Linked DNA regions of Homo sapiens. The protein of the gene in region 1 purifies or fractionates together with the protein of each later gene. This does not show direct contact. Each region holds a gene or a part of one and is shown in the gene's direction. Other genes may lie near its edges.

Region 1 (6,103 bases):
CACTCTTTGAGGTAAAAAATTAGAATGAAAGAACCTTTGGATGGTGAATGTGGCAAAGCAGTGGTACCACAGCAGGAGCTTCTGGACAAAATTAAAGAAGAACCAGACAATGCTCAAGTAAGCATTTCATCTTCATTTAAAAATTTAAAAAAATTCCTTCTTTTCCATCTGGTCAACTGAAAAATTTTAGTTAAACGGCTTCTGGTTTGTAAGTTTAAAATAACCCAAACTGAGACAGGCTCTCGCTGTCGCTGAGGGTGTAGTGCAGTGGTGCGATCTCCTTAGCTCACTGCAGCCTCCACCTCCCAGGCTCAAGTGATCTTCCCACCTCAGCCTCCTGTGTAGCTGGGACCACAGGGCACACACCAACATGCTCAACTATTTTTTTGTATTTTTGGTAGAGACGGGGTTTGGCCATGTTTCCCAGGCTGGTCTCAAACTCCTGAGCTCAAGCAATCCACCCACCTTGGCCTCCCAAAGTTCTGGGATTACAGGCATGAGCCACCATTCCTGGCTGGTTTTTTGCTCTTTGAATGAAAGCTATAACTACATGATTTTTTTGTGTGTGGAAGGAAAGTAATATATTTACCATTTTTCCATACTTGTCACTTAAAAAAAATTCTCTTGTATCTGGTAGTACTTTCCTTTATTCTGTTAAGAATTTGTGGTCTGTGCTAGTCTCTGGGGATCCAGGATTGAGCAAAGTCAGCTTAGTCCCTTCCCTTGTAGAGCTTATATGTTAGTAGAGGAGGCAGAGATTACAAAAGTATTGGTCAAGTAATATATATAATTACAAACTATGACAAGTACTCTGGAAGAAAAGCCTAAAATGGGGAATCTGACCTAGTTTTGGTTGTGGTCTGCCTGGGGATGGCTAGGGAAGGCCTCTCTAAGGGAAGGATGTGTAAGCTGAATTATGAAGAATGAATTGATTAGGCAAAGGGTATGGAGAAGAGTATTACAGACAGAGGGAACTGTGAATAGGAAAGCCCTGAGTTGGAAAGATGCATGGTTCTTTTTAAGACCTGCAGGAACAGTGAGCCTGGAACAGAAAAGGTATGAAAATGGTGATGATGATAATGATTAAAACAACAACAATAAAAATAGCTGGCATTAGTATATCAGTATGTAGTATATATTATATCATAATCATATGTGACATTATTAACTTAATATTTATATATGCTTAAGAGTGTGTCAGGCACCATTCTTACCACCATATTATTATCCCCATTTTACAGATGAGGAAACCAAAGCTCAAAAAAGCCAAATAGTTTACCACAGATCACAGTTAGTAGTAAATGACAAAGACTGGATTCAAATCCAGGTGGTCAGACTCCAGAACTTGTGCTATTCTGCTTCTCTATGATAAGGCTGTATATATAGTTTAAGGCTGGATTATGTAGGACGTAGCAGACCTTGTTATAAATTTTGGTTTTTATCCTAAGAGCAGTAGATAGCCATTATAGGGTTTTTTGTTTTTGTTTTGAGATGGAGTTTTGCTGCAATGTTGTAATCTTGGTGGCTCACTGCAACTTTCACATCCCGGGTTCAAGTGATTCTCCTGCCTCAGCCTCCCCAGTAGCTGGGATTATAGGCGCCTGCCACCACGCCTGGCTAATTTTTTGTATTTTTAGTAGAGACGGGGTTTCACCATGTTGGCTAGGCTGGTTTCAAACTCCTGACCTCAGGTGATCCACCCACCTCAGCCTCCCAAAGTGCTAGGATTACAGGCGTGAGCCACCACACCTGGCCAATTGTAGGGTTTTAAGTGAGAAAGTAAGATGAAACAGATTTGTGTTTGGAAAGATCATTCTGGCTACCCCATAGGGACCCAGAATGGAGAGCACGGAAATCAATGTGGAGGCTGGGCACAGTGGCTCACGTCTGTAATCCTAGCACTTTGGGAGGCCAAGGCAGGCAGATCACGAGGTCAGGAGATCGAGACCATCCTGGCTAACACGGTGAAACCCCGTCTCTACAAAAAATACAAAAAATTAGCTGGGCGTGGTGGTGGGCGCCTGTAGTCCCAGCTACTTGGGAGGCTGAGGCAGGAGAATGGCGTGAACCCAGGAGGCGGAGCTTGCAGTGAGCCAAGATTGCGCCACTGCACTCTAGCCTGGGTGACAGAGTGAGACTCCGTCTCAAAAAAAAATAAAATAAAATCAATGGGAGAGATGAGTTAGTTGTTTTGGCAAGGAATTTTTCTTCTGGGACAGTTCTTTCGCTTTACACTCAAAGTTATTGACTTTATTGTATCAGCAAAGCAATTATATTTTAAAATAATAAAAAACAATTTTATTTTTCACACCATCTCACAGGCAGTATCATTCCTTTTTTTTTTTTGAGATGGAGTCTTGCTCTGTCACTCCCAGGCTGGAGTGCAGTGGCGCGATCTTGGCTCACTGCAACCTCCGCCTCCCAGGTTCAAGCGATTCTCCTGCCTCAGCCTCCTGAGTAGCTGGGATTACAGGTGTGCGCCACCACGCCTGGCTAATTTTTTATATTTTTGTTAGAGACTGGGTTTCGCCATGTTGGCCAGATTGGTCTCAAAACTCCTGACCTCAAGTGCTCTGCCCACCTCGGCTTCTCAAAGTGCTGGGATTATGGTTGTAAGCCACCATGCCCAGCCACAGGCAGTATCATAAGAAGACAGGGATGTCAGGTAGGTTTTGTTTCACTCATGAACTCTATGCCTTGCTAGAGTGCTGGGCTAAGAAGAGTTCTGAGGTAGTGTCTGTTAGATGTGGAGTGGGGGATGGTGGCATCCATGCTACTTGTTTTCCCTCCAGATGGTAAATTCTTACTCTTTCTCTGCCTAAAGTAACCATTTCTTTGCCAGGTTTTGTGGTTTTTAGCTTTTAAATATTTTTTGTATCTGACCCATGATGTTCTTCTATATTTCATTATTTCTCTCTCTCTTTTTTTTGTTTCCTTTTTTTGAGACAGGGTCTCACTTTGTTGCCCATACTGGAGTGCAGTGGTGTGAGTATGGCCACTGCACTCTAAACGATCCTCCCATCTCAGCCTCCCAGGTAGCTGACCACAAACATGCTCCACCACACCCAGCTAGTTTTTGTAGAGACGGGGTCTCCTTATGTTGCCCAGGCTGGTCCTGAACTCCTGACCTCAAGCAATCCTCCTGCCTTGGCCTCCCAAAGTGCTGGGATTACAGGCATGAGCCATCATGCCTGAACTATTTCATTATTTTTCATTTGGACTTTTATAATAGTTTCCTACCTATTCTCCTTCCTTCAGTCACATATCCCATCAAAACACTCTACAGTGATGCCATTGTACTGTATAGATCGAGTGATATTTCTCCCTTTAAAGACCCTGTTTCCTCCAGTGTGATGAAGCAAAGATCTTTCAATGTGACATCCAAACCATCCATGTTTAGGCCTTTGTTTCCCTCTCCAGTGTCATCATTCATTGTTTCCACCTTTTCAAATCTATGCTGCTGCCAGCTATTTGCAGTTCACTCAAAACTATCTTCTAAAACTCGGTTGCATTTTATTTCCCTGCCTTTGCACCTGCCATTTCTTGTGCCGGTGGAAGAAGAAATAAGCTAGGTAGGCTGGCAAAATTTTGTCCTCTTTTAAGATGAAGTTTCTCACTCACAAGTAGAATGAGCTGTTCTCTCTCTCTTTTTTTTAATTGTATAGTGCAATCACTTTTATTATGGTATCTACAGGTCAATGAATTTTGTCTTCATACTGATTATACTAATCTGGCCATCTCCTCCTCATCTTTCATTGACACACTAGACTGCAGTCTCTCTGAAGTCAGAAATTGGTCTTATTGACCTGAATCTCCAATTCCTAGCACAGGATTTGGCACAAAGTACATGTTCAATAATTGGAATAAAAGAGCCTCTTTCACATATAAGGAAGCTGAACCTGAAGGAATAAGTGACTTCACCAGTGTCTCATGGTAAAACTGGGATACAACAGTTTGTTGTTACTCCAGATGCAATATTTCTTTCATTATACCTTGCCTATACACTTAACAAATAATGTGCTTTAAGTTAATTCAATGTTCTTTCTGAATATAAAAATTGTGATAATGGAAATCTCCCTAGCAGCTTAGATTGTATATTTAAGAGGGTAGGAACTGCTCAGTTGTCTTTGGTTTATATTAATGTTTTCAGGTGAATAGGCTATATTTTTTCATGATTGAGGGTATAGACTATGATTGAAAAGCCAATTGAACAAATTGTGTATTATTTTCTATGTTGCATTGATGAATCTCCTTTGAATATTGGAAAATAAGAGATAAATAAAAATGTTTTTTATTTTCTGATTTTCTAAGAGTTTGTTCTGGATATTAAAATTATAGTTGAAGGCCAGGCGCGGTGGCTTGTGCCTGTAACCCCAGCAGTTTGGGAGGCTGAGGTGGGCAGATCCCTTGAGGTCAGGAGTTCAAGACCACCCTGGCCAACCTGGTGAAACCCTGTCTCTACTAAAAATACAACAATTAGCCGGGCGCGGTGGTGGGCGCCTGTCATCCCAGCTACTCAGGAGGCTGAGGCATGAGAATCACTTGAACCTGGGAGGCGGAGGTTGCAGTGAACTGAGATTGCGCCACTGCACTCCAATCTGGACGACAAAGGGAGACTCCATCTAAAAAAAAAAAGTTGCAGTTTAGTCCTTATATTCATATATGTTGAGTATTCATATTCATTCAGTGAGTTTTTATTCCTGCCTGCTGTAATCCATAATACTTGAACATTGTTGTGAGCAGTTTACATACCTTAATCCATTCGATGCTCACAACCCTCAGTTAAGTACTGTTTCTCTTCCCACTTTACCCATGAGGAAGCTGAGTCCTAGATAGTAACCCGTTAAAAGTCACATAATTAATAAATGGTTGAGTCAGGATTTGGACTCCAGCAGTCTGATTCAAGAGCCCAAACCCTTAACCAGGATGGTAAACTGTATTAGTTACTTTGTTTTCAGAAAGGCTACAGAGATGAAAAGATAGGACTTCTGCTCTCAAGGTAATTGATAGTGTAATGGAGAGAAAAGTTATGAGAATGAGAGAAGTAATATTTGTTGAGTGACTGTGCCTTGTGAGAAGCTATGCTAAGCATATCTTATGCATTCTCATTTAAACCTAATTGTCTTCAAACTTGTATGCTTTCTGCTGCTTTGTGCCACCTTTTTTTTTTCTTTCTTTTTTTTTTTTTTTTTTTTTTGGGATGGAGTCTTGCTTTGTAGCCCAGGCTGAAGTGCAGTGGCGCCATCTCGGTTCACTGCAACCTCCACCTCCTGGGTTCACGCAGTTCTCCTGCCTCAGCCTGCCGAGTAGCTGGGATTACAGGTGCCCACCACCACACCTGGCTAATTTTTGTATTTTTAATAGAGACGGGGTTTCACCATGTTGGCCGGCTGGTCTCGAACTCTACCTGCCTCGGCCTCCCAAAGTGCTGGGGTTACAGGCGTGAGCCACCGTGCCTGGCCTGTGCCACCTTTTGTGCAAATACAAAATCAAGGCCATGAGTGGTGGCTCATACCTGTAATCCCAGCACTTTGGGAGGCCGAGGTAGGTGGCTCACTTGAGGTCAGGAGTTCAAGACCAGCCTGGCCAACACGGTGAAACCACAACTCTACTAAAAATACAAAAAAATTAGCCAGGCTTCGTGGCACATGCCTGTGATCTCAGCTACTGGGGAGGCTGAGGCAGGAGAATCACTTGAACCCAGGAGGCGGAGGCTGCAGTGAACAGAGATTGCTCCACTGCACTCCAGCCTGGGCAACAGAGCAATATTCCATCTGAAAAAAAAAAAATACAAAATCACAGTCTTAGGTAAGTGCTTTAAAATTGTGTGAGGTGCATTGGGAGCATAGGGGAAGGAGCCCTAAATCTATATGGGAAGGAGAGGAAGGTTTCACATAGCAGGTAGCAATTGTATTATAAAAATTGACTAAGAGTTTCAGACAGAGAAAATATAGCAGAGAAAATAGCCACGTCATGGAGGGGTGAGAGAATGTGGTGTGTTTAATAGTTGAGTATCAACAATAAAGTGGGAAAAGATAATAGATTTAAAAATGGTTAGGTAGGATTGATCAAATTTAGAGATTGTTTATGGGTGTGAAGGTCA
Region 2 (6,103 bases), on another chromosome or scaffold:
TCTAAATAATGAACTGAGCAACAAACAGGTGGCATGTTAGGCCTTACTAGAAGGCATAAGTCGAGAGCTACCACAAATGAAACAATTATTCTTGTTAAATGTTTGCCCAAGAAAATTTCTAACCAAAGAAATTAAATTCCATTTGAAATCAATGTGTTCAGTATGTTATGTGGATCCTTTTCATATTAGACAATGTAAAAATAATTTAATTGCCTGACACATCCTGTATGGGAAGTGATTCCTGAAATAAGGATTCTGATGTGAATTCTTACATTTCTTAAGTACTTCATTAGAAATTCTATTGTTCATAAAATTTTTACCAGATGAAAACTTTAATTCGTTGACTCACTTTTTACTTTCCTCCTTGAGTTTACCAAACGAGAACCAGAAGATACGAAAAGTGCAGATTCTGATCGAGATGTTTTTAATGAGAAACCTTCTAAAGAAGAAGTCATGGCAGCTACTCAAGCTGAAGGACCTAAACGAGTTTCGGACAGTGCCATTATCCACACCAGCATGGGAGACATTCACACCAAACTTTTTCCTGTTGAGTATGTATAACAACTGTTTTTATTGGCTTATGTAATTAAGAATGTAAATGTGTATATCTGAAGAAACCATGCAACTTAAAATTCCCGTTACTTTGACTTAAGGAATTTTGAAGAAACGTTTGATAAAAAACATCTATTCCTGAGCTTTCTGATAAGTGTTACGGTAGAAAATGGGAAATTTTTATGCATATATACTTTATAGGTTCATTACGAGGACAAAATGTATTGGCTATGAAAGTGCTGAGTGTAAACTGTAAAGTGATACACAAATGTGTATCACTGTTACTGTTAACAGCACATCTGAACTCTAGGTTTTGTGGATTGCTTTGCTTTCCTCTCAAAGCAAATCCTTAAGAGAAAGATAATTATGTTTCCTTACCAACAGTTGCTAGATACCTACTATCTCTTTATAGTTTCAGTAGCTCTGTGTTTTAAAAGTGAACTACAAGCTGGGTGCAGTGGCACGCACTTGTAATCCCAGCTATTCAGGAGGTTAAGACAGGAAGATCAGTGGAGGCCAGCAGTTTGAGACTAGCCCGAGCAACACGGCAAGACTCTATCTCTTAAAAAAAATTTTTTTTTATTAGCTGGGCATGGTGGCACGCACCTGTATTCCTGGCTATGCTAGAGGCTGAGGTCAAAAGATGTCTTGAGCTCAGGAGTTTGAGGCTGCAGTTAGCTATGGTCAAACCACTGCACTCCAACCTGGGCAACAGAGTGAGACCCTGTTTCTACAAAAACAAATTACAACAAAACCGTAAGGGCTTCAATTGAAAAAAAGGTGAACAGTTTTCTGGACAGTTTAAAAGACTGTAAAATTAACATACAATGTCAAATACAGTAGAGTATCTCTGGCCATTCTTGACCCAAAAAATGACATCTTTTACAACACTTTTACTTAAAAGTTCTTATTTATTAACATTTTGAATATGAACGTTTTATACCATATCTTGGTACTCAACAAATAACTAGGCAGCTCTAGACTCTTGGACAGTCTCACTTTAAGTGCTCAAAACCCATGTACTCTTCGGCCTTGTTTGCTGATGTACTTGGGTACAAGATTCTCTTGGTTCGTCCATTTCCAGCTCTTAGAAGTATTACATGGTAATGAACCGTATGAAATAATTGCATAATTTTCAGTTAATATTATTGAGAAAGCTTCGTACTCTGAGTGTGATTGTCATTTAAAGTTGAATAAATTTAGATGTCATTTCTATGATTAAGGTTTTGGCCAAGAGTATGTCGCTGTAGCATAACAATGCTTTTGTAAGAAAATGACCTTTCCCAGGAACTTAACCTATACTACTACATGCAGACCTATAATACTATATGGAGTAAACTAACTTAAGATATTGGGCCAGGTACAGTGGCTCAGGCCTGTAATCTCAGCACTTTAGGAGGCTGAGGCAGGAGGATGTCTTGAGTCCAGAAAGTCAAGATCAGCCTAGGCAATATAGTGAGACCTTGTCTCTTAAGAAAAAAACATATTTTTAAGGTGCTATGGCTGTATTTTTTTTGACTGCTAAATGACCTTGAAATTTTAATACTGTCAAACTCAAATATTAGTTAAGCAGTCATGTTCTAAAGATAACTAAGTTGAACAATAAGAATATACTACTTACATGACCCTCCGTGCTTGTCCTGAGATTAGAGATTATGAAAAAAAAAAACAACTGTCCTTCTGAAACATTCAGAAGACATGGAAAGGAAACATCATTAGGAAGCAGAACTGCAAAGAAAACTGTTTTAAGATGCTCTGAATAGGTTTCATATTTGTAACATATGTCTTAATAGGTGCCCTAAGACAGTGGAAAACTTCTGTGTTCACAGCAGAAATGGTTATTATAATGGGCATACATTTCACCGTATAATTAAGGTAAGTTACATAAATTTCATGTCATATAAGAAATACTGTATTATTACATAGCAAGAGATTTAAGCGCAAGGAATCTTCTTCTCTCACACTTAATCAGTTTAGTGGAAAGGAACAGGAAAAATACACTATGGAAGCCAAAGGAGGAGTGGATGGTCATAAATATCAACATCTAGAATCAACAGGAATAGTGGCATGATTAGAAACACTGAAGCAATATTTTGTCAGCAGCTAAAGTAAAGGGTAAGATAATGAATAAAGGGTCATGCTGAGATTACATCAGTAACCTAGGTAACCTCTTTGTCGTGGCTAGATAGGGTCTAGATCTAGAAGATATGATTTTTCAATCATAGAGGAGCCACAGTGCCATCTGATCTGTGAGAACCTGTAATATACCAGAGGAGGAGAGAGAACTCAGCCCCTGGATTTTGTTGAGCAGCTTTCCATAAAGTGGATGGGGCACTGATACAGTGCTTGGTTTCTGGCAGGTCAGAAACGGCAGGATGAAAAGTCAGATCTCAGGGTCCTAAAGGAATTAGCGAAAAGGCTTTCCAGGAAATCCAGAGTATTTGGGGAAAGGGAGAGGGAGAAGAGGAGGGCAATTATATAAAACATAACATACAGATCCTAAAATTGATAGTATTAACTGGCTTTATTTGGGTTATTGAGAAAGACAGAACATGTCTATAAATGAGAAGACGACCTTTGCATTTATGTTTCAATCAAGGTGGTGGTTGGGCAATGGAAATACATCATCCAAATTTAAGTGTTAAGGGTTTAATCAAATCACTTTATAGTGACAGTTAATATTACACTGAATACAAAGCACTCTTGGCAGAAATAAAACTTCAAAGCGTACATATATCGAAAAGGACAATGTAATGTTTTTGTGTACTTTCTGTTAAGGGCTTTATGATTCAGACTGGAGATCCAACAGGTACTGGTATGGGAGGAGAAAGCATATGGGGAGGAGAATTTGAAGATGAATTTCATTCAACATTACGACATGACAGGCCATACACACTCAGCATGGCTAACGCGGGATCAAATACTAATGGATCCCAGTTTTTCATAACGGTAGTACCAACGGTAAGTACAGTATCATTGTTTATAAACTACAGATTGATAGGTTATGATGTAAGAGAGTGAACTCAGTAGAAGAGCTGCATTATTCTGTATTTTCTGCATTATTTATATCATCTAGCAGAATACAAATATGAAAATGATCAAGAATATAAAATTATGTGACTAATCAGTTTAGAATTGGTAAAACAATACTGCCACTGTAGTAAGAAATACAATGGACTACGATTCAAGATACTTGAGTTTCAATCTCAACTCTGCCTCTACTGATGATGTAACCTAAAATAAATTATTTCACTTCTGTGAGCCTATTTCCTTGTCTTTAGAATACAAAGATTAGAGTATATGAATTCACAATTTTGAGACAATTTCCCCCACATTTTAGTATCTCTGAAATCAGAATACATTAGATTTGATGAAATACAGTATAAGGTAACCTAGCTCTATTGCTATGCCATAACACAAAATTATAAAAATTACCTAGTTTTTGTTTTGGAATTAAGCACTAAGTGATGAAGAAGGGAAAAATGTAACTACCATCTGCCAGGCACATAGTTTTATGTAGTATTCACAGTACTTCTACTATCAGTATCCCCAGTTTTCAATAATAGATGAAGAAACAGTGAGACATGATTAACTTGCCAAAAGGTCAAGTAGCCAAGCTAGCATTTGAACTCCCACCTGTCTAATGCCAAAGTATGTGCTGCATAAACTATTTCAAACTGCCTCTGAATAAACTGTTCAGGTAAGAGTCCTCCAGAGACCTTTTAAAGCCTTAGCCACAATTCTGTAAGCCATGTGAAGTAACTTACCTTTAGGGAAGATCTTCCAGTTCCCTTTGGTCTGAAAGATGCAGATATTTAATTAAACATTATACTATGCTTCTATTTTTTTTAACACACTGGAAATAACTTTTAAAAGCTGCTACATTTTTATTGCTGAGAAATTATTGTACTTCTTTTTAAATATATGCTAAAGGGGAGCGTAAACTTAAATTCTCTTTAATTTGCTCAACCAGAGGATATAATTTAAAGAAATTGGGGTTTACCAAGATTTTCCATTTGTCCTCCAACACAGCCTTGGCTTGATAATAAGCATACAGTATTTGGACGAGTGACTAAAGGAATGGAAGTTGTACAGAGGATCTCCAACGTCAAAGTCAATCCCAAAACAGATAAGCCCTATGAGGATGTCAGCATCATAAATATTACTGTCAAGTAAAATAAGATTTGTTTTAATGTACTTGCAAATAAAAATACAATATTAAACAGATTATTTTACATTAGGAAGCTTAGGACTTGCTGAATATACAGATCATGTTTCAAAGATACAGTATTTTTGTATTTTTTATTAAAGGCTATTTTTTAAAAATTACCTTTGACTTTTCTCGCAATATTTCTAATCCTGGGAGGTGATAAATTGAAATGGACTAAACTCAGGCAAATAGCACTCATTATAGGTAATTTCTAATCAGCCTCAAATTAAATATTAAATAATTACAGTACTCTCCTCCACCCCCTTTCCCATGGTTTTCTTTCTACTGTCAACCATGATCCAAAAATAGGTGAGTACAATACAGTGAGATATTTTCAGACAGCAAGACCACATTCACTAACTTTTATTACAGTATACTGCTATAGTTGTTCTATTTTATTGTTGTTAATCTCTTACTGTGCCTAATTTATAAATTAAACTTTATCATAGATATATATATATGAAAACACAATATATATGGGGTTTAGTATCATCTGAAGTTTCAGGCATCCACTGGAGGTCTTAGAAGGTATCCCGTGCGATGACAACTCTATTAAATAATGACAGTGGTACACAACTGTGCTTTAATTTTGAATACCTGCCAGATATTCCGCCCTTATGTTTAGAAGAGTGCAGATCCCTCCTATAAGAAAAAAATACTAGGATATGATATTATATGTCATTTCCTTTGTTTTACAAGGTTTCAATGCCAAATATTTTAGTCTTTTGATAACTGTTTAGTAAGTAGTGGTGAGTAAAGCCTCAATAAACAGGAAGTTACTTTGGTCAAAGTGTTATATTCCTTAATAATTATGAAATATTCTTTCAAATGAAAGATTCAGAATAAGTGAATACCTGAGTCCTTAGTTTATTATATGCAGGTTGATTTTCAGATTATTTTTCTAACATAGGTAAACAATTTTTTCTGTCCTCAAGTTATAGTATATCTTTAGAAAATATACCATTAAGAAGTATACATAAAAATTTTGGTATCTAACAATGGAGAGATTAGTAGAAATTGGAGCAGTAAAACAATATGAGCACAAATTCTTATATTGATCTTCTTCACTTACACTTATAACTAACTTCATAACTATTAAGACTCACTGCTTCGTTTCCAGAAAGAAAGACTCTTTCTTTCAGAAACTTACAGGAAGAACATTCTCAACAGACCTGTGTAGGGAATTTATATTCTTAAGTTTTAAATCGGCTTAAACTTTTCCTTCTATTGATCAGCAGGATTCTTTATTTATTTCGTGCTACAAAGTTGTGAGATAGATAGGAGATTATGCCAGATTGTGCTCCTGTAATGTATGCTCCTTTTTAAAAGTAGAACTTAAAG
Region 3 (6,103 bases), on another chromosome or scaffold:
CTTAAGTTTTCCTGGAATCCCATGGGCATTTTAAATGAGGAAAACTTTCCAAAGGAAAAAAAAAGTGAAATTTCAAGTGAAAAGGTCTTATTGCTGGGGAATGCATTTTCCTAGTCATGCAGTTTGATTTGTTTATAAAACACTTAGCTCCTTTTGATGGCTACAGCATGTCTGAAGATGCATTTTTTTTTTTTTTTGAGACAGAGTCTCGCTCTGCTGCCCAGGCTGGAGTGCAGTGGTGGGACCTTGGCTCACTGCAACCTCTGCCTCCTGGATTCAAGTGATTCTCGTACCTCAGCCTTCTGAGTAGCTGGAATCACAGGCACACATGCCACCACACCTGGCTAATTTTTACATTTTTAGTAGAGACAGAGTTTCACCATGTTGGCTAGATTGGTCTTGAACTCCTGACCTCAGGTGATCCACCTGCCTTGGCCTCCCAAAGTGGTGGGATTACAGGTTTGAGCATCCGTGCCGGGCCTGAAGATACATTTTTAGATGATTCTTTGTGCTCTCTCCACTCCCTGACCAGTGACCCCCTTTTGGTTTGGGGCAGTTGGGAGCCTTGCCGCGACCCCCTCTCCTGTGCTGTCCACATGTCCACGTGGTCATCTCTTTATCCTAACAGGGACCTGATGGGGAGACGGGGATTACTAATCCCACTTCCTAGATGAACCCAGGCATCTTACCTATCTGTGTCCCAGTTTAGCGCCAGTCTCAGCGCACAACCACAAGATGTTTATTGAATAAATAATTGATCAAATGGGGAAACTTGGACTTAGACTGATTGAGTAATTTCCCCAAAATTATATGATAATAAGTAGTAGCACCTGGAATTTTTTTCACTTAAAAGAGTCACATAATATGTATATGGAAAAAATTATAATTACTCATTATTCCACTATGTAGAGTCACCAGAGTTGCCTCGAGACCCTTCTTCCGTGTGTTCATTTCATGTGTTCCTATTTTTAAGAGAAACATACATGCACATCATTTTGCAAAATGCTACTTCAAAATTGTGTTCAATAAATATGGAATTAAGAAAAGAATATTTGTAACATATGTCAGGTTGAAAGAATACACCAAAACGCACACTTGTATAGCCACCTCCCAACTTCAGACAAGAAAGAGACTCGTTCCTTTGAATCTCCCTCCTCCCTCCCCTGTTTGTACCCTTCACCCCAGGCCCCAATACCCAGAATCTGTTTATCATTCCTTAGCTTTGCTTTTTAATATTATCACATATGTATTACCCCTAAACGATATTTAGTTTCATTATTCATGTTGTAAACTTTAAATCAACTACATCAAACAGCGCATATGCTTCTGAGACTGGGGTTGTGGCTCCGTGTTACGCATGTGAAACATATCGACGTTGATGCACGTGGCTGTTGCTCATTAATTTTATTGCCTGAGTATACTGTAATTTGTTTATTCTTCTGTCATGAGGGTTAGTTCCACGTTTTAAAATTGTTTATGTATCGGTCGGGCATGATGGCTCACGCCTGTAATCCCAGCACTTTGGGAGGCCGAGGTGGGAGGATCACTTGAGGCCAGGAGTTCAAGATCAGCCTGGCCAACATGGCGAAAACCTGTATCTACTAAAAATACAAAAATTAGCTGGGCGTGATGGCGGGCACCTGTAATCTCAGCTACTTGGGAGGCTGAGGCACGAGAATTGCTTGAACTGAGGAGGCGGAGGTTGCAGTGATCCGAGATTACGCCACTGCACTCCAGCCTGGGCAACAGAGCGAGACTCCATCTCAAAAAAAAATTGTTTATGTATTATGATTTTTGCTAGGAGCCCTCTTGTACACATTCCCTTGTACACTCTTGTACACATACACAGAAGTTTCTCTACAGGATATATACCTACAAATATGTTTGTCGAGTTTTGGGGAAATATGCTTTTTAAATATTTTTTCTTGTCAACAAATACCCGTTTGCAGTTTGATCTTGTAATGGTAGAGCCAGGATGTTAAGCCCAAGTGGTTGGGCTTTCCCTCATTGTCCACAGCTGTCTCATATCCACATTGGGGCATCCCCCAGCGCGGTCAGGGCAAAGGCAGCAGAGGGCGGGGGTCTGTCTGAGGGTAGTGCTGGTCCCTGGGTACAGAATGTCCCTGAGCAGCCCCCACAGGCAGCTGCCTCTCCTCCTTCAGTAGGTCCCTGGAGATACCCTGGCTGCCCGGCTCAGCAGTCTCAACCCCCAGGCCCCACCCACGCAGCAGGGACTGAAATAACTCAAGTGTGTGTTTTCTACCCAAGGTTGTCTTCAACCACCTTACTCCTCCACCGCCCGATGAACACCTGGATGAAGGTAAGAAGGGTGGTTTGGGAAGCTGAGGCTCCACAGCCCTCTCCCCTAGGTGGCAGCTTTGTGGAGTTGGAAAAAGGTTGAGTCAGGAGCAGCTTGAGGGCTGGAGAAGAGAAAACGGGGAAGCTGAGAGAGGCCCCGGCTCTGTGCCTCTTGGGGCGTCTCTTCAGGAACCAAGAACAAGTTTCTTCAGTATGCCTGAGCCTGGGTGGGACTTTTAAAACATGAAAGACTTTACAAACTGTAAACAAGAACAAAAACAAGAGTCCCAGGGAAGACACACAGCATCATCAAACCCAAGTTTTAAAATATGCTAACTCTCAAACGCAAAGGGCTGGGCCAGTGGCTCCAGGCCCTTGCCTCCAGCCCCTGTCCGCTCTATGTGGAGGGCACCTTCTTGTTTCCCGCTCCCAGTCACTTCGAGAGTCCCGCTGCTGACCACCTAACCACCCACGCCCCTACCTGGTCCCCAGACTCCACTTGGTTTTTTTTGAGACAGAGTCTCGCTCTTGTCACCCAGGCTGCAGTGCAGTGACCCAACCTCAGCTCACTGCAACCTCCACCTCCCGGGTTCAAGAGATTCTCCTGCCTCAGCCTCCCAAGTAGCTGGGATTACAGGTGCACACAACCACACCGGGCTAATTTTTATGTTTTTACTAGTGAGGGGGTTTCACCATGTTGGCCAGATTGGTCTTAAACTCCTGACCTCAGGTGATCTGCCCGCCTCAGCCTCTCAAAGTGCTGGGATTACAGGCGTGAGCCACTGTGCGTGGCCCCTAGACTCCACTTCTGCTCTGGTGGGCTGGCCTGCTGGGTACTGTAGGGAATGAGCTCAGCCTTTCTGGGCCAGAGGCTCCACCCCTGGGGACTCCCAAGAGGGTGGCCTCCTTCAAAGTGACTTCCCGCAGCCTCCTCATCATCCATGTCCACACAGCATGGGGAAGGGATGCCTCGGCCAGCCGGGCCCCACCCATTAACCTGCTCATATGATGTGTACTGGGCATTCAGCACACAGAGCCCAGCTCTGTCCCAGGAATGGCGAAGGGGTGACAACAGGTAGATGCGACCCCTTCCCTGGAAAAGCTCAGAATCTGTCACACTTGTGAGCAGAACCTGAATCTTAAAACTTCAGGGAACCACTGTCACCCATTCTGACCCTCGCTTTCCTGCTGAGAAGAGGTGACCAGCCCGAGGTCACAACACTCAGCTCAGTGACAGAGCGGAGCCACCCCACCCGGGGAAGCTAAGTGCTCTCCAGGTGACCTTCATCAGGTGGGTCCTGTGGCTCCCAGAGCTGTGCAGAGAGCCTGCGTCACAGCAGGGCTCACTTGAAGATGGTGCTCCAAGCTCCTGAGCCCTCTTCCTGCCTTCCATCCAGGGCCCGCCAGCAAGGTGGGGGGCCCGGCAGGGTCACTGGCAGCCATAGACAGTGTGGCTGGGGCTCTGGGCACAGACAGTGGAGAGGCCAGGGCTCCAGCTGCCACGTGGCAAGACCACCCCTACTGGGGATAGAGGCAGGCGGGGCAGAGGAGGAAAAGGATAAGAGGAGGCTTATGGGCCTCCGAGGGCAGGTGTAGAATAAGAAGATGAGGGCTCCCAGCACTATGTCCGAATGTGGGCCTGAGGCCACCAGCAGCCCGGCAGTGGCTGCCTCCCTGTGGCTGACCTCTGGCCATCAGCTTCCTCACACACGCCTTGTCCAGGTCATAGGGCTTCTTAGTGGGTCCACAACGGAGGACAGGATGGGCTCTGGGGGGCAGCCCATCCCTGGTGGGGTCACAGGGCTGGGGGTGGGGGCCTGTGCTGGGTGAGAACATCATTTCCATCGTGGGCAAGCAGAAGCCTGTCCTCCTTGGTAGCCAGGCTCACCCCAGCCCCACCTTCCCGCTTGTGGGCCTGAGTGGTGGTCATCTCTCCCTTGTTCATTTTAGACAAGCATTTCGTGGTGGCTCTGTATGACTACACCGCTATGAATGATCGGGACCTGCAGATGCTGAAGGGGGAGAAGCTACAGGTCCTGAAGGGGTGAGGTTCCAGGACACCATCCCCTGTCCCTGCAGGACCCCCCTCCCCCACATCTCTCCTTTCTCCACCCACCACATCCTCCATGGCTGACCCTGGAAGTCTTCTCCATCGCCCTGCCCCCAGCCCTGGCCCCAGCATTTTCTTGAACTTGGCCCTTTTGTCTTCCTCTCCAAAATCTTTCCGGTGAAGTAATTTCCATTCACAACCTCCTGCTCATCCTTCAAAGTCCACGTTCCATGCCACCGCCTCCATGCAGCCCTCCTGACTCTTTTGGGCATGTGGACCTTGTCCTTTATGCAGGCTGGTCTGGCTGTTCCGTGAAAGCCTTGCATTTAAGCCAGTTGTGTCCATATTTGTCTCCTTTTCAAGACAGGAGCCCACACTGATGACACACACCAATCCCGCTTTAGCTCATTTCCCATGTCCTTCTCAGAAACTCCTTCTAGGTCAGCTCTCTCTCAGTGGCCAGGCTTGTCCTGTGGAGCTCTGAGGGTCTGATTTGGTTCTTGAAGTTCTCCAAAGGCCCTGAGCCAAGCTCACGAAGGTCCTGACTGCTGATTCTATACAGTCCACGCCAACCGTGTTTTTCTCAAGCCTGTCCCCAGTCCCTCACCAAGCTCTGAACACGTCCCATTCATCAAGAGGAAGGCTGCTGGCTGGATCCTTGTGCCCTCTTGGCTGGTCAGGCTGTGTAGATAAGCTCTTCCCCCTAGAACTTGCCCGGATAGCCACTGTACCACTGAGCAGTGGGCACAAGCCCCTTCCTGCCTGCCGTACTCTCTACCCCTGCGGATTCTCTGCCCTCCAGGGAGAGATGACTTTGAGGAGGCCTGAGAGCTGCCCAGTGACGGGCCTACAGGGGCCATGATCTCATCTCTGTTTCCCCTGCTCCCATTAGAACTGGAGACTGGTGGCTGGCCAGGTCACTCGTCACAGGAAGAGAAGGCTATGTGCCCAGTAACTTTGTGGCCCGAGTGGAGAGCCTGGAAATGGAAAGGTAGGTGGGCACGGGAACCCCCCTCGAGCCAAGATGCAGTCACTGTTTCTGCTCCCTGGGCTGTTAGGCAGGGCAGGGCCAGAGTGGGACTGACCAGGGAGCCTGCAGGCACTAGCAAAGAGGGGACAGGAAATGAGCTCTGCTGGGAAAGGCCTCTCTGCTGGCTCCAGACGACATTCAGACTGCTGTGTGACACTGAGCAAGCCGCTCTTCCCAGCTAAACAAGAGCGGTCCTTCTCCTGGCTCCCCTGGATGGAACCGGCCCCAGTGTCTGATGGCCTCGAAGGCTACCAGGGAGGCACTATGACCAGCATCCCCTCCCCTACAGCCTCCATGGGCAGGACTCAGGGCTCAGCCCTCGGGGGCTCCCAGGAGGGTGGCGTTGTTCAGAACTGATTAATACTCCCAATCTTCTAATCCCCCAGCCCCCATCTTCTCCCATGTCCCCATGGCACTGGGAATTTCGGACTCGGCCAGCCAGAGCCCCCACGAATCTGCTCACAGGGACTAGCTCTGCCTGAGGACTGAGGCCCAGCAACGAGTCTTCTCTGGACACTGTGGGCCCCGCTTCTTTCCCTGGAACAGTGTGGGGAACCGTGGGGCTGTCCTGCACAGAACAACCCCATACCGAAGGGGACATACTGGGGTCCCTGCTCAGAGAGTCTCGGCAGTTTGCCTAATTCAGATCTCAGACTGCAAGGAGGAGGCACGTGCCTGTGATACGCAGCTGTGCTTTGGAGAGAGTGATCAGGGGCATTTTTCCA
Region 4 (6,103 bases), on another chromosome or scaffold:
TGGCTTTTCATCCTGACTGATGAGGTGGCTTTACTTTTAGACCTGAGCTAGGAATGGGGGAGAGGCTTCTATCACAAGGATTTTTCTCTTCCATTTTCTGAGATCTGAGATACCCGATTCACCTTTTATCTAGTAACCAAGTGACTAGAGAGCATAGCACCTGATTTGCTTGATCTGATTAAACCACTGGACCATTGCCCAGTGGGAAATGCAGAAGCATATCAACTTTTAAGATGAGGTGTCTTCCCCGTGTTAAGTTATCTAAGATGTCTAAGAACCTTTGGCCAAGTTCTTTTTATTTATATGAACATAACTAGAACTATGCTTTTTGGCCTTTTGACAAAATTACCTGTAACCTTTTCCCCTCTTTCTTCATTTCAGATCTGAATCTGTTAATTATCCTCTTGATTCTGTCCCTTCCTAATTGGATTTTCCTCTAGCGATACACTCAAATTTCTCTCATCTATTATATGTTTTTCCTAACTTTTTCCCACTAGGGAAGCAGCCATAAAGGCAAAGGTCCATAACTGTTACCTTCACTTTTTGAAAGGTATTCACCCCTTAACCCAGTTTCTGCCTGTCAATTCTACTGAAGTGGCTTCTTTTTAAAGACAAAAAAAAATTATTAAGGTATAATACACATTCAGCAAAGTGCTATAATCTTAAGTATATGGCTCAATGAATTTTTCCATGTGTATATACATTCATGTAGCTGCCAACCAGAACAAGACATGGAATCTTTTCATCACCTGAAGACTCCCTCATTCCCCTGATAGTAACTATTCTTCCCTAGAGGTAACCTCTTTTCTGATATTTGTCACCATAAATTTTTGTTTACTTATTTTTTGAGGTATAAGATACTTGTAGTAAAGTGCATGAAGTGTACTTTTTTTTTTTTTTTTTTTTTGAGATGGCGTCTCGCTCTGTCGTCCAGGCTGGAGTGCAGTGGTGCGATCTCGGCTCACTGCAAGCTCCACTTCCCAGGTTCACGTCATTCTCTTGCCTCAGCCTCCTGAGTAGCTGGGACTACAGGTGCCCGCCAACACGCCCAGCTAATGTTTTTGTATTTTTAGTAGAGTCAGGGTTTCACCGTGTTAGCCAGGATGGTCTCGATCTCCTGACCTCATGATCCACCCGCCTTGGCCTCCCAAAGTGCTGGGATTACAGGCATGAGCCACCACACCAGGCTGAAGTGTACTATTCTTAAGTATATGGCTTGATGATTTCTTTTAACCTATGAATACACCTATATAACTATTCTCTAGAAAAATATATGGAATATTTAATGGCTTTTATAAAAAATAGCAGCTTTATTGAGATATAATTGACATACCATGGAATACATTTTTAAAGTATACAGTTCAGTAGTTTTTAGTGTATTCATAGTTGTGCAATTGTCATCACTATTTAATTTCAGAACACTTTCATTACACCAAAGAAGAACACTATATTCATTATCAGTCACTCCCCATTTCCCTCTTCCCGAAGGCTCTGCAACCATTAAACTGCTTTCTATTTCTACAAATTTGCCTATTCTGGAAGTTTCATATAAATGGTATCATACTGTAGTGGCCTTTCATTTGACAGGCTTCTTCACTGGTGTAATATTTTCAAGGCTTATCCATGTTGTCACATATATCATACTTCATTCCTTTTTTTCTGACTGCAGCCTCGACCTCCAGAGTTCAAGGGATCCTCCCACCTCAGCCTCCCAAGTGCATAACCATGCCTCCCAAATGTGTACCACCATGCCCAGCTAATTTTTCTATCTTTTGTAGAGATGGGGTTTTGCTATGTCACCCAGGTTGATCTTGAACTCCTGGGTTCGAGCGATCTGCCTGCCTTGGGATTACAGGTGTGAGCCATGGTACCTGGCCCCTTCATTCCTTTTTATTGCTGAATATTCCATTCTATGGGCAATACCACATTTTGTTTATCCTTTCATCAGGTGATGGACATTTGGGTTGTTTCTAGTGTTTGGCTATTATAAATAATGCTATATGAACACTCATGAATGCATTTGTGTGTGGACATATACTTTGAATTCTCGTAGGCATATACTTAGGAGTAGAATTGCTTGAATTTTTGTTAACTCTATGTTTATCATTTTTAAAGAACTGCCAAATTGTTTTCCAAAGTGGCTGCACTTGTGAGGGCGATCTGGCTGCGACATCTGTCACCCCATTGATTGCCAGGGTTGATTTGGCTGATCTGGCTGGCTAGGCAGGTGTCCCCTTCCTCCCTCAGTGCTCCATGTGAGTCCTTCCCGAAGCTGCGTGCTCGGTTGAAGAGGACAACCATCCCAATAGAAGAGGACTGGTCTTTGGTCAAGGGTATACGAGTAGCTGCACTCCCCTGCTAGAACTTCCAAACAAGCTCTCAAGGTCCAAAGTGGCTGCACCATCTTACATTCCCACCAGCAATGTATGAGGGCTCCAGTTTCTTCAATTCTCACCAACACTTGTTTTTGTCCATTTAAAAAATTACAGCCATCCTAGTGGTTGTGATGTGGTATCTCATTCCTGGTTCCTATACCTGAAACATCCTTTCTTTCCTTGCCTATATTCACCTATTGAAAAACTATATTTCAAATAGTACCTCCTCTATGAAGCCTTTTCTTGATCACCCTAACTAAAAGTGATTGCTTCTTTTTTTAAATTCTGCAAACATTGCATATATATTTCTGGTGGTGTGTGTATTTCCCTTATATCACATTTCTTTGTATATTTGTTTTACAATTACACTAAAAAATTCCTCAATGGCAGATACAGTATTTTAGTGATCTCTGAATTCCTAGACTCCAAATCCTTCTAAGGAGGTGTGTATGAGGAGGCGAGAAGATAAGGCAGATTATGATATGTACAAAGAGGAAATATTAGTACATATTTGTGTTTTTGTTGACTTGTGTGTGTATGTATGTGTGGTGGATTAAATTTTGGGGGTACCTGCAAAATATTCCCTTGGGAAAATTACTTAATTCTAGGAACTGGGGCAACAATGGAGAAGGCCAAATCATTATGTGCTACCCTCTGATGGAAATGGGGATTATTTACTTTAAGGATTTATAATCTTAAATGGTTTTTATATCTACAGAATAATAATAAAGTTGTACAATGTTTTTACTTTAAGTTCCTTCCTATTTTCCCCACTGCATAACCCAACAAAATTTTCTACTTAAGATCAATGTACCCATACTAGAAGCCATGTGTTGAGAAGTTGTTGGATGAAGATGGCCAAAGATAGTGCTGGTATCTAGATTTGTGTCAATTTTTTCTTCGTTTTTTGTTTTTTTGAGACAAGAGTCTTGCTCTGTTGCCCAGGCTGGAGTGCAGTGGCGTGATCTCGGCTCACTGCAACCTCCGTCTCCCAGATTCAAGCAATTCTCCCTGCCTCAGCCTCCAGAGTAGCTGGGATTACAGGTGCCTGCCACCACACCTGGCTAATTTTTGTATTTTTTAGTAGAGATGGGGTTTTGCCATGTTGGCCAGGCTGGTCTCAAACTCCTGACCTCAGGTGATCTGCCCACCTCAGCCTCCCAAAGTGCAGGGATTACAGGCATGAGCCACCGCACCCAGCCAATTTGTGTCAATTTTTTAATAGTTAAATTCCATTGAAATTGAGCTGTTTTATTCATTTGAATAACTCTTGACTGAATTCAGTATTTCTGTTGTAAGCTAAAAATCACAGCTCTCTAAACCTTTTGGGGAGGATGGGATTTATTGCCATGGTATTTGTTTCTTGTATTTTTTTCCTTATTTAATTAACATATACATATTTGACCTCCGATGGTCTGCTTCTGACTCATTAGCTTTCAGAAGCAATACATATTTGGAAATATTTTTGAATCAAACCAAATATATATTGTGCTCATTTAAGATATATACCTTCATCTCTCCTAATAGATCAGTTTTTTGTTTGTTTTTTTGTTTGTTTTTTGTTTTTGTTTTTGAGACAGAGCCTTGCTCTGTCACCAGGCTGGAGTGCAGTGGCGCGATCTCGGTTCACTGCAAGCTCTGCCTCCTGGGTTCATGTCATTCTCCTGCCTCAGCCTCCCAAGTAGCTGGGATTACAGGCCCACGCCACCATGCCCAGCTAATTTATTTTTGTTTATTTAGTAGAGATGAGGTTTTAACATGTTGGCCAGGATGGTCTTGCTCTCTTGACCTCGTGATCTGCCCGTCTCAGCCTCCCAAAGTGCTGGGATTACAGGCGTGAGCCACCGTGCTCCCCGTTTTTTTTTTTGAAAGGGTCTCTCTTTGTGGCTTAGGCTAAAGTGCAGTGGCAGGATCTCCACTCACTGCAACCTCCACCCCCCGGTTCAAGCAATCCTGAAGCCTCAGCCTCTCGAGTAGCTGGGACTATGGGCATGTGCCATTATGCCTGGCTAATTTTTGTATTTTCAATAGAGACGGGGGTTTCTCCATGTTGCTCAGGCTGGTCTTGAACTCCTGACCTCAAGTGATCAGCCCGCCTTGGAAGTGCTTTGGGAAGTGCTGGGATTACAGGCGTGAGCCACCACACCCAGCCACCTTTCTTCTTTTCTTGAACCCTTTTGTGTTTTAGTAGATTTGTAATAATGGTCAATTATTATCTTTGAGCAGAAATTAACAAGTATGTTTTTGTAGTGCAATAGCTATGTATGTTTTTATAGTGCAATAAAGTTTGTGAAATGAGATTTGCCTACCAAGGTTTTCTCCTTTCAGAGGAAGAAAAAGTGGCTTTTGTTAACTGGATAAACAAAGCCCTGGAGAATGACCCTGACTGTAAGCATCTTATACCCATGAATCCCAATGATGATAGTCTTTTCAAGTCACTTGCAGATGGCATCCTTCTTTGGTGAGTTGAACTTCTGGTTAAGGAAGCTGCGTTCTTGCTGATTACATTGATGAGCATTCCATGAAAACTCCAATTCAGCTGTCCATTGTCTTTTGGAGTCAGTAGCTACTTAGGTCATGAGGAATTTATATTGCATAGAAAATGAACTACTGTATATCTATTGGAAAATTTCCAAAATTTTCCTTCAAATACAATCCCTTGTTTTTCTGTTGCCTTTTACGTGTATTACTATAATAATTGCCAGGAATCTTTTGAGTTATTTGTCTGATGCAGTTTTAAATATTCGCAGGGTTTCTCTTTTCTTTTTCCAGTAAGCGAGTATTGATTATTGACTGGAATGGGACATGAGGAAATGTAAAGGGAAGATATTCCTTATTTGTACCTAAATGAAAATAATGTTTTGATTCAGCCTTGTGTTATCCTTGGCTCTTTGCATTCTATTTTTTCTCACTATGTTGTAAACTCTCTGAGGGAATGTCTTTGTCATTGTTGTGTGTACCACAGTCCCAGCATACTTCTTTGGACAAAGCAGAGGTCTTTTCTTTAGTTTATAAAAAGTACAAAAGATTTACAAAGTAGAAAATAACCATCAAAAATATCCTTACCACCCATAAATGACTTATTAATATTCTAACACATTTCCTTCAGTCTTTTTTTTTATGTTTTTACTTAAAAAGGAAAACAAAACCTTACCCATAAGTACAGGATATTAGATTTTATGACATTAAATATAAAATATACCTTGACCTCCACCTACAATTCTTATCTTTCTTTGACTCTCAGAGAAATTCCTATTATGAACCAAATGGGTATTTTCCTATTCTTGTTTTAAAAGGTAAAATTCTAAAATATAGAGACAAAATTTATATTAATTTCTCTGAAAATGTCTAAATTATTGGTCTTAGATGAAATCTCTGGCTTCGTATCTTTCTGCAACAACAGTAATTTTAACAGTGTTGATACTACTTTATGAAACTTGGCTTCTTGGAGAATTTCTTTGTTTTAGGCTGCGGAATACTGATGATCATTAAGTGAAATAAAGACAAAACTAACATAAAGAAAATTCAGGGTGATGACTGGGCGTGGTGGCTCATGCCTGTAATCTCAGCACTTTGAGAGGCTGAGGCAGGAGGATCACTTGAGGTCAGGAGTTTGAGACCAGCCGGGCCAACATGGTGAAACCCCATCTCTACTAAAAATACAAAAATTAGCTGAGAGGTGGCACACACCTGTAATCCCAGCTACTCGGGAGGCTGAGGCAGGAGTA

What was found.
Region 2: the proteins of ZMYM6 (region 1) and PPWD1 purify together in Homo sapiens (affinity purification with mass spectrometry; one large-scale study listed by BioGRID and IntAct). This does not show direct contact.
Region 3: the proteins of ZMYM6 (region 1) and BLK purify together in Homo sapiens (affinity purification with mass spectrometry; one large-scale study listed by BioGRID and IntAct). This does not show direct contact.
Region 4: the proteins of ZMYM6 (region 1) and PLS1 purify together in Homo sapiens (affinity purification with mass spectrometry; one large-scale study listed by BioGRID and IntAct). This does not show direct contact.

What each region holds. Positions count from the first base shown.
Region 1 is NC_000001.11:35,024,561-35,030,663, reverse strand, and holds part of ZMYM6 (zinc finger MYM-type protein 6), read left to right. Parts: 5' UTR 1-24; coding exon 25-117; intron 118-6,103. UniProt on the Homo sapiens protein: Plays a role in the regulation of cell morphology and cytoskeletal organization.
Region 2 is NC_000005.10:65,582,669-65,588,771, forward strand, and holds the end of PPWD1 (peptidylprolyl isomerase domain and WD repeat-containing protein 1), read left to right. Parts: intron 1-369; coding exon 370-551; intron 552-2,345; coding exon 2,346-2,427; intron 2,428-3,330; coding exon 3,331-3,513; intron 3,514-4,584; coding exon 4,585-4,728; 3' UTR 4,729-4,881; downstream 4,882-6,103. UniProt on the Homo sapiens protein: PPIase that catalyzes the cis-trans isomerization of proline imidic peptide bonds in oligopeptides and may therefore assist protein folding. May be involved in pre-mRNA splicing.
Region 3 is NC_000008.11:11,543,784-11,549,886, forward strand, and holds part of BLK (tyrosine-protein kinase Blk), read left to right. Parts: intron 1-2,268; coding exon 2,269-2,320; intron 2,321-4,248; coding exon 4,249-4,342; intron 4,343-5,240; coding exon 5,241-5,339; intron 5,340-6,103. UniProt on the Homo sapiens protein: Non-receptor tyrosine kinase involved in B-lymphocyte development, differentiation and signaling. B-cell receptor (BCR) signaling requires a tight regulation of several protein tyrosine kinases and phosphatases, and associated coreceptors.
Region 4 is NC_000003.12:142,671,454-142,677,556, forward strand, and holds part of PLS1 (plastin-1), read left to right. Parts: intron 1-4,703; coding exon 4,704-4,836; intron 4,837-6,103. UniProt on the Homo sapiens protein: Actin-bundling protein. In the inner ear, it is required for stereocilia formation. Mediates liquid packing of actin filaments that is necessary for stereocilia to grow to their proper dimensions.